Linked DNA regions of Homo sapiens: region 1 is linked to region 2. The links come from fine-mapping of genetic effects on gene expression. A gene starts in region 2. The other region holds a variant in brackets. All regions are shown on one strand. Distances are between the middles of the regions.

What was found. PIP is the estimated chance that this variant, and not a neighbour inherited with it, causes the effect. A credible set is the group of variants that fine-mapping cannot tell apart.
Region 1: its variant is the best candidate, but not a certain one, in a credible set for the expression of ANGPTL5 in transverse colon (GTEx, PIP 0.73).

The regions. Positions count from the first base shown.
Region 1 is chr11:101,889,394-101,894,785 of GRCh38, forward strand. ANGPTL5 (angiopoietin like 5) reads right to left here. Exons shown (of 9, transcript NM_178127.5): 9 at 1,281-2,205. The coding sequence ends at 1,886. Among named protein-coding and RNA genes, the nearest start is that of CEP126, 23 kb to the right of the region's middle. The variant G/A (reference allele first, on the strand shown) is at 2,354.
Region 2 is chr11:101,913,881-101,919,272 of GRCh38, forward strand. ANGPTL5 (angiopoietin like 5) reads right to left here and starts at 2,642. Exons shown (of 9, transcript NM_178127.5): 1 at 2,139-2,642. It overlaps CEP126 (centrosomal protein 126), which reads left to right and starts at 1,130. Exons shown (of 11, transcript NM_020802.4): 1 at 1,130-1,532. The coding sequence starts at 1,405. RefSeq lists an enhancer at 1,049-1,148.

The DNA of each region.
Region 1 (5,392 bases), 24 kb before region 2:
AAAAGAGAAAGAAAGAAGAAAGAAAGAGAAAGAAAGAAAAAGAAAGAAAAAAGAAAGAAAGAAAGAAAGAGAAAGAAAGAAAAAGAAAGAAGGAAGGAAGGGAACGAAAGACAATTGCCCTTATCCCTTAACATCTCCTAAGAGTCAGGTCTGAGTATCTGAGGCTCAGGATTATGACCTGAAATATACCTTCTCATTTGCAATAGGGTTTGAGACCTCTTAATACTTTTAAAGCATCTCACAAGGCATCCTGGAAGTAATGTTGTCCATGGTTAGTCAATTATAAGTCAAATATATCTTTCCACTCCAAAGCCCCCCAAAATTAAAATTTCTCACTGCTCTCTGGGTCCATCTTTCCATTCAGTATTCCATTGATTCCCATTCTGCTTTCATCCTCAATTTTTCCATCATTTCCATAGGCTTTAGATGGGATAAAAATGTGAAGCCCCTATCTCTTGCAGTACCATAAGGGAGATTGCCTCTGTCCCAGCTCAGCAAAGATTTCAAGGCCCAGATTCAAAACAACAGATTGGCTTGCTAAGCAACAAAATTATTGCCTTGATTTGTAGGGGAATTTGCCTCGTGGTGCTCATATCATTACCGATATAAAAGGCAGTTCTGTGCTTCTCCAACCTGGCACGCATCTGACTCCACTGCCAAGATACAACCTCAGCTGTGCCTCTGTGATATGCATTGGAGACCATGGGAATCCATGTGCACCCTCCTGCAATCTTATCTCATGTAATCATCTCATGTAATCCTGTTCACGATGTATTCACTGCTTTCAGAGGATATCAAAGTGAAAGCACCTTAAATGACGACCTTATTATCATTTTTGTCCATCCCTGAACCCAAATCAGATTCTGGTTCTATTCTGGGCTTAGCTATGTCACCCTGACATCTATATCCTCAAACTTACTTTTATTCAATCCTCTTCCCACTTAATTTTTCAGCCACTTTTCCCCTCCCTTGAGTATTATATAACCCTAACTCTGGACAAAGTACCTTCTATTCAAAACTAATTCTTGATCATTTCCCTTGTCTCTCTTATCAGTAACTGACACTTGGCCCTGCATGTTCCCTGCTGTCCTCTCCTAAGGAATCCTTACCATCCAATTCCCTCCACCTTTGTAGAAAAAGTAGAGGGGACCAGCTTATTCCTAGAGTATATCTAGAATTGATTCATCACTGTTTTATCGACCATCCTTCATGTAAACTACAAACCATTCCTACTGGTTCAAAAAGAGTTCAGATAAAGACGTATTTTAGAATGCAGCTGATCAGGATATAAAAGTACATATATTTATTACAAACAATAACAAAATAGTTAACCATGATTAGATATGAAAACAAGAAAAACTATTTGGGCAGCAAACTCTTACTACTTTTAAAATGGTATGGCATCACCTAGAAATAGTAAGGTTTTTACATCATGTGTAGCTTATATATTAATCTGCATAAAGTTATTTATTGTAACTGTCTTCAGTAGAAATTATCTGTAGATTATATAATCATATAAAGTATAAAAATAAGTAAAATATTCCCTTCAATTTTCCTTACAACATATTATGGTTTAAAAATGCTTCAAAGAAAAGGCAAAATCCTTTAAAATCACTATAAATTTTAGGAAGACAAGTTGTAGTTCACTTGAAACAAATTTCATTGTATATTGTTAATATAGTCAGAAGTAAAAACATACAATAAGCCATGTTTTCTTTTATAGAATACTACAAAATTGAAGTTTTCTAATTAAACTCATAACATCTAAATGCCATCTACAGTTAAATTTTGCCTAATATGTTTGAAACACTAAGTGAAAAGATAAACTTTTAAAAATCTTTAATATATTATCATTGTAGAACTTGCATTACAATGTTAAATGAGATTATTTAAAATATGGATTGTACATTCTTCTAATTTTCATTGAAACAGATTTAATCTTGACAGGTGAGTTGTTTTTGGTCCACGTGCCCCATTGAATTCCAGTTGCAAGCAATTTTCCAGAGAAGTGATGAATGCCATTTAGATTTGCTAGACCACACTCGTTAAACCACCAGCCGGTCTTGTTATGGAGGTGACTGCAGCTCTTCACAGACTGACCATTGACCAGGCATGCAGGGCGACACCCATCATTATCAACATCTGATGTGCTAAAAGGCATTGCATTTTGATTATCTTCTTTTTTGAGACCCCGGAATGCATCACCTGGGAAAAAAATTTTTAATGATCGAATTTAAAGGAAATTTCTATTATTTTAATTAATCATTACCAGCATATTAGGCAAGAGCACCACATCTGGAAATAGGGTTTAAATTATTTTCCTACTGTTTATCATGTTAAAATTCTCCTACTC[G/A]AAGATTCAACATGCCACAATCTGGTGATGAGTTCCCCAACACAACAGACATCTTTAAATAAATATTTGATATAAAAGTCACAGTCCAAAATGGAGTTTTGCTGTGTAGACAAAACCAGATAATTTAGGCCAAAAATTATAGCATACAGAGCTGTCATAATTTGGACAGACCAATATGATAATTGATAATTTAGGAAAAAAATTAATTTACACAGGGTAGGTTTCCTTACCACTACCATTTATGTCACTTTAGCTAGAGAAACTTTTACCTTTAAGAAATTTAGATTTACAGTTACAGAAGTTGGGGTTTTTTTCTAGGGGCCATCAACTTTATACAGAATACCAAATGCCCTCAAGAAAAATTCAGATATACTGTTGAGGTGTACCTTTTCTTCACGGCTCTTCACATGATTTATGGACCAATTGGATAGTAGTTAAGACAATACCGTTTTTAAAGGGCTTCTACTGAACATTGTTTTATTTTGTTTTGTTTTGTTTTTAAGACAGAGTTTTGCTCTTGTCCCCCCAGTCTGGAGTGGAATTGCATGATCTCGGCTCACTGCAACCTTCACCTCCCAGGGTCAAGCGATTCTCCTGCCTCAGCCTCCCAAGTAGCTGGCATTACAGGCACACACCACCACACCCAGCTAATTTTTGTATTTTTAGTAGAGATGGGATTTCACCATGTTGGCCAGGTTGGTCTTGACCTCCTGACCTCAAGTGATCCACCCACCTCGGCCTCCCAAAGTGCTAGGATTACAGGCGTGATCCACTGCTTCTGGCCTGAACATTGTATGTATGGTATCCCTCGTATTTACAATAACCCTGCAATGATTAAGTATCTTGTCCAAGATGACCCAGTTAACTCAGTGGCAGGAGCAGGAGTCATATTTTGTTTCATAAAATTCCATAAAGTTAAAGATTCTAAGTAAACCCATAATGCCTCCATTTCACCTATATGTAAGCTTTGGCTAATGTTTGAAACACTAATTTAAAAAAGAAGCCATATGCAATCTGTGGAGAAACCAAGCTCTATGTTTGTTTCATTATTTCTGAAAGTTTGGCATCTCTTGAGATAAATCTTTTGAAAGAGCCTGAAGAACTTCATTAGCAGTGGTGGCCTATCCTATACCCCAGTTCTGCTGATTATTAAAGTCTCTGACTCTGCACTTCATGGGAAACAAAACACACACATTGTAGGTATTTTCAGAGAATATATAATCTCCAACACCCACACAGTGTGATACTTTTCCAAAGTTCCAGTGAGAGACAATACCCATGGAGCATTGCCTAAACAATGTGATCACTCCATGGATACTCTCCCTAGATAAAGTCCGACCACCAGAAGGATCATATAGCACATAAGCTCCTCAAGAGATTTTATTTAATTCATTTAAAAAATATATGCATAGGCTTATTTCCTTAAAAATAGCCTATTATAATATAGCCATCATGTTTTCTGTGAGAGTGTGGTTGGAGAACATAACACTTTTCTTTTCCCTAAGAATCCAGAGACATTTATCTCAAGTCTTATAATCAGGAATAGTTGGGATTCTCGTGGAACAAGTGTGTTGCTCAAATATTCAAATTCATATCTCTGTTTTTGCTCCAAGCTCAAAGCCAAATTTGTGACCTGCCTTTACCAAACACCTGATCACATTTAACCCATTGGTTTTATCTGTATTTCTATCATTACATTCTGCTGACACCTTTTTCTTTTATTCTTTTGATTACATTATGTGATCAACAGTTGAAAGTTACTTCATAACCTTGTTGGGAAAATGTAGAGTACAGTATGGCAAAATTTGAGACTTTTGTAACGAAAAAACTTTTGCCATTATCAATATTATCCTTTAATTAGATCCTAGTCATCTTTCAGAGAATCCCCACATAAACTTTTCCTAATATAGTATATTCCACCTTTAGATAGTTCTTTGCACTTTTAGAGAGCAAGCATTGAAAATCATATATTGTAACTTTTTAAACTTTTCCCTATAGATCATGATTGGAATTTCAGACTTTCACCTAATATCACAAGTGTAAACCCCTCAGGTATCATAGATTCCAACCATGTCAGACAACTCTCTGTGACCTATAATTTTCCTCCCTCTATGCCTTAACTTAAGCTGCTCTGTTTGTCAGCCTTCATTTGCTAAAAGCCTAACCATTCTTCCAAGACTAGATCAGTGGTTCTCAACTACAAGTATGCCAACATATCCATCTGGCTTAAAATAACTGAATCAGATTCTACAGGAATATATACTTCTAAAAAGCTTCCCATGTTGAATCTAACATTAACAGCTTGTTAAAAATTGCTTTTCCATGAATATTTTTTGGGTGCAATCAACTGAAATCATTCTCACCCTCTTTCTGACCCCAAAAGTTCTATCAGTATTCTGTATTTCCAGTGTTACTTATCTTCCCCTTTATATTGGGAGCAGTTAAAGACCTGGGAACATATATCATTTATTTTTTGATTTCTAACACTAAATATACATAATGAACAAGTACCACAAACAGCAACAAGGGAGTTGAATTTAGTGCTTTTTAACTCAAATGCCTTTACATTTTCAGCATTAAAATGCAAGTTTAACATCAAGTATTTTGAAGTTCTGACAAATTAAATTTATTTGGAAATGAGCAGATGCATCAAAGTATAATGAAAAAACACTAAACTTGTTGTTCTGTCAGCCTGGATTCTTGCCTTGGCTCAGGTGACGTGATCTGGGAACGTTGGGCAAGTCACTTTATCACTCAGGTTTTTTCACCTGTAAAGTGAGATGACTAGAGATCATCTCTAACAGTCTGTCACTTCTAAATGTCAGCCTCTCTGAACATGAAAATGAAAATGCCTTCACAGCCTACTCCACAGGCTCTCTATCCAAAGAATCAACTGAGATTACATAAGGCAAATTGTTTTAGAGACTATAAAGCACTTCAGAAGCATGAGGTAGTACAATGATCATAACAAAGTTTCAAAACTCAAGACTTGGCCAGCTTTCTTATTCCTAATCTATCCTGTTATCAGTTATGTGTTAT
Region 2 (5,392 bases):
CCAAGATAGCCAAGTGTCCAGTTGTATACATTTAGCTTTTCATGTCAGAATTGTATATTTTATCCTGTTGGTATGCTTCTGAAGGAGAGTTCATGTGTTTTGTGTCTTAAATCGAAACTGGATTTGTTGTGGCACTTTAAAATCTGTCGCCAGTGTACATTCCAATTTGAGTCATTGCAACCAAGTTTGCAAAGATTGTTTTAAACAGTTTCAACTGGAAAAGTTTATTATTTGAAATCTTAAAATGAACAAATTAATTCACAAAGGCAGAGACATTTGAATGGTGGGTGAATAATCTTTATTTGGTCTGTACTTTCTGCTTCCAATCTGGGAATTTTTCCAAGAAAACACTGACTGAAATACAGTCAGAATTTATATATGCATTTACATTAGGCTCCAACAATAAGATTCAGCCTTTTTCAAAACTGTCACTTGCATAGCCAATAAACTAGTGTCTCAAAAATCCATTTAATTTTCCATACTTCCCAAAACCATTTCAATGCGATGATCTCTTTTGGCATATCTTCCCAAGAGATTGCTAGTTTTGCTGTGATGGTCCATTTCCAGAATCTGGCAGCAATGCGAGAACCATTAGGAGGCTTTGAAATGTAGACCTTCTAAGTAGGGCAAAGGCAAGGAAGACGACTGCAGAGGGAATGCCAGAAGCATTACCGAGTGGATGAGAGAATGCAGGGAAGGAAAATTTCCACTTCACAAAGACATTTTAAAGAGACGGTGTTTGGGGATGATGATGCCACAGAAAGACTCACAACTCAAAATCTCACAACAGGATTCAGTAGTTTAACAAATTCAACTCCAAATTGTCCCCCAGACAATCACTGCAGACTCCTCCCGGTGGCAATTGCCTGTATCTGAGGATTTTACATCTGTCTTTCGTCACTGTCGGTACTGCCACAAAAACACTCTCATAAAAAGGGAGGCAGAACTGCATCAGGCTCTAAAACAACACTCAGCTCACCCCTCGCGCAACAACCCGGGTCCCTAGGGATGCTTGGGTTGCCACCCGCCGCTCGAAGCTGGAGGGGCCGCCGGAGCCTGCGATTGGCTGCTTCGGGCACATCGTCCCGCCCCGACCTGTAGCTCCTCCCAGGTTTCCGTTGTCAAGGACGCGCCGTCGGTTGTTGTCAAGATGGCGGCTGCAGGGTTGCTGCCGCCCCATCTGCTATTGCCCGGCGAGGTCGCCGCTGCCTCAGCTGCCATCGCCGCTACAGGCACCAGTGCCGCTGCGCGGGAGCTAGGGCTGTCGAGGCCAACCCTTCCGCGCCCGTGACGCGGGGCCTGAGAGACGGAGTGTAGGGAGGGGCCGAGCAGGAGGAGGAGGAAGCCGGAGCTGCCATGAGGGAGGTTCTGGGGGCGAGCAGACAGGCGGCGCTGAAGTGAAGGATGCTGGCGGGGAGGCCCGGAACCCGGAGCGCGGTCGGGGAACTGGGCACTGAATCATCGGACAACCTCGACAGAGCCCCCCTCGGCCCTCGGGAGAGCGGCGGGCATCACCGACCTGGCTCTTACCTGTATCCTTCCCAGCCTGTGGCTGCCAGGGTAGCGATGTTGAAAACGGGGCCCATCTTTTTCCAATTAGATTCCCATTACCTTTGACGCAGGGTGATCAAAACTAGCAAGTCATCTTAGTGCAGATATTTCCTTTAGCAACTGTCGTGTCTCACCTTAGACCTGAAATTATACCATTTTATCTAATTCTGTGGCTGCTTCCCCCCATCACCCTGTTATCCTACTCCCATTCTTCAACTTTGTAAAATTTTTGTGAATTTTAAAACACATCAACTGTGTATTCTGTGGGGATATTTTTATGCCATTATGTTCTTTACTTACATATTAACTACTTCCTGATTTATCGTACTACTTGGAGAGAGAAATTACACAAATAAGTAAAATGTTTTGCTATCCTAAAGAGTCCGTTTTAACAGTTATCCTAACACAGCCCTAAATGCATTTACCAGAGCTGCTAAAGGCTACACAGTTTGGTAAGTTGTTTTGTTTTCCATCTCTGCCCAGTCTGTTGTCAGAGCGACAGAAAAGAGGAAATGAGAAACAGGGGACCTGGACGCTTTACAATCTGGATTAACTCTGACTTTTCTCGAAGAGTTGGTTAAGCCTACCTTTGATGTTGCTGTTGGTTGCATTGTAGAAAATGGAAAGAGGAGAAGTATTTTGTTATCAAAATCTGTAAATCAGGTTTATTCCTTTAGAGACTGTTGTGATGATTAGGATTTAACCTTTGTATTCCCAAAGGACTTGGTTGGCAATGATGGTGTTGTGTAATCATCTTCAGTCTTGTCAGAGATGAGTGTCTTCTCTTTCCAAGTTAACTCTGTTTTCTTATCCCCTTTGTCTCCAATTTCTAGGATGTTCTTTGTACTCTGTTACAATTTTAGCAGCAAGTCAACAATTTGTATTGAGTGCCTGCTCTTTGGCTGACTCTGTTCTAGGTTCTAGGGATACAAATCTAGTGAGGAAGACAAATGTGTATAGAGCTTCACTAAAAGTAAAATATCTCTTCTCCGATCATGCTTTCTGCAATCTTCCATCCCTTCAGTCTTTTCTTTCTTTGGGCAGGTTCTCAAAATGGTAGCTTGCAATAGCTGCTTCTAGTTCCTCTCATCTATTCATTATTAACCCCATTCAGTTTGGCTTTTGCCCTTGCTGCTCCCCAAAATTGCCCTCTTAAAGGTTACTCTGAAATGAACACAATCATTTTCTGTATGGATTTAATTCTGGCCTCTTGACATTATATTTTCTTGGACACAACTGCTATTACACGACCCTGATTTATCTCTAAATCAGAAAATAGGGAAGTATTGTAAATGGCTCATTGAGAGTGTATTTTCTGTTATTTTCATTAATAAAATGGTTGTAGGCCTCATTTTTTAAATTTTATGTGGTATAAATTTTTGATACAAATGCCAAAGAAAATATTCATAAATAGAATCCAGCAATACTTTGAATGAACACAACCAAATAGACTCTATTCCAGAATTAGAATGACATTTCCTATAAAGAAATACAACACTAAAAAAGATCCTTAAAGGCTAAATATATAGTTAAAATTAGGCAAGTTATAAATGAACATTTTAATAGATGACCAATAGACTTTGATAAAATCCAACAATGTGTGTGTGTGTGTGTGTGTGTGTGTGTGTGTGTGTGTGTGTGTGTGCTGGTTTATATATATTTTTGCTAGTTTGCATATGTGTGTATATATATGTTTAGATAATATATATTTAAATTGGAACAGAGGAATTATTTTTGAACATAATAAAGATTATAACACTAAATCAAGAACATTATGTTTGCTAGCTGGAAAAACACTAAAGTACCTTTTATATAAGTTTAATTGGAATGTTCTTTGTGTCTATAATGTTTCCCATTGGATACCTAGCACAGAGTAGGTGCTCAAATTTACATGACTAAATGAAAAAAAGGAAAGAAAGCAAATGAAAGGACCACAGCCTTAAAATAAGCAAGTATGTGGTAACATTTACATTTCAATTTCAAATATGAACATGATACTCAGAGGCCATCTGGCTTTCTGTTGAAGACATTTTCTCACTGGAGTCAGAATTTTCTGACTCTAAAGGTTATAAAACAACAAAACCTTATGAAGTTTATTTAATTAAAATTAGCTAAAGTTCTGTCATTTCAATCTCTTTTTCTCTTTTGAGAGTTCAAATAGAAATGGAATTTAAAAAAAAAAAAAAAAGGAAGGTCTCTCATGTCCCCTTATACCTGCCTTTTTTTCCTCATAAATATCTCTACCCTTCAACCCTCCCATTTTATCCTAGCACCCACCTTGCCTCTCCTTTCCTCTCCAGTTTATACCCTATTCTTAACTATTTGAACTTTCTCTCACCAACATCTTTGGCTATTTGTACCCCAATCATTCTGCCTCAGCCACTCAATAACTACTATAGTCCTGCTCCTTTACTCCTTCATGCGAATAATAAAAATGCTGTCAAAGAAAAATCACAAAACAATACAGATTGTACCACTAAAGATTGATGGTTTCCAGCTTCACCTAAACAGGAACAGGGTTCTTTCTTTTTCCTATGAATGCCTCTGCCAGGTCTCTGTCACCTTCCATCACACTCGATAGACTGTCTTACCACTTGATAAGACTTGGATGCCCTGACAGGTCTGTTCCAACAAACAGCACAAACACACACACTCCCACCCACCTGTCTTTTTTTCCCCCCAGGCTCACTGATGGGATCTTACTTTTACTATAGAAAGTGAAGTGAACCCATTCAGCTGGGCCCAGTGGCTCACATCTGTAATCCTAGCACTTTGGGAGGCCGAGGTAGGCAGATTGCTTGAGTCCAGGAGTTCGAAACCAGCCTGGGCAACGTGGTGAAACCATATCTCTACAAAAAATACAAAAATTAGCTGTGTGTTGTGGTGCATGCTTGTAGTACCATCTACTTAAGAGGCTGAGGCAGGAAGATTGCTTGAGACTGCGAGGTGGAGGTTGCAGTGAGCCGAGATTATGCCACTGCACTCCAGCCTAGGCAACAGAGTGAGACCCTGTCTATAAATAAATAAATAAATTGTATTTTGCTAATACATACATAATAAAACATAGTTTTGTACCTTGTGTTTCTAAAAGGTACTGCCCCATGCTCATGAGATTTTGAAACTTAGGTACATAATACATTTCTAATGGCATATACTTTTGTATAACCCCCTTAGGAGCCAAGTTTTCTATAATGCACTAAAAGATATAAAAATGCATATGCCTTTTGTCCTCATATCTACCCCAGAGAATTTTCTCCAAGGGAATAATTCAGGAGGTTTTTATTAAATCATTACTATATTCTAAGAACCATGCCAGGCGTGAGAGTTACAGAAATGTAGAGAAGACACTTATCATGTACTCATGAAGGTGTCATCAAGTCATCTAGTGGAGGTTAGAAAAGGCTTCAAGGTAGAACGAACTGCTTGAGATGGCCCTGAAAGGATGAGTAGAGTTAGCCAAGCATGTGCCAAGAGATAATGGTATGATACATCACGGGTTGTTCTGTTTATAATTATCTTAGTGCGTCTGGACATAGGATTCATACAGGGAAATGTTAAGAAATAAAGTTGAAAAAACAAACTATATTATAGAATGGTTTATATATAGGTCCAAGAACTTTGGAATTTTTCATGAAGGTGATAGGGAGCTTTTGGAGAACAACAAAGAGAAACACAATCAGATTTGCATTTAGCTGACTTTGTGTAGGTTCAAATAGAGGTTTAGAGTAAGAAGAATTAGAGGAGCACTGTAGTCGTCCAAGCAAGGGATTTAGAGTACCTGAGTTAAGGGAGAGGAAGAAGGTACAGTAGAGGAAAAATCGAATCAACATAGCTTTAATAG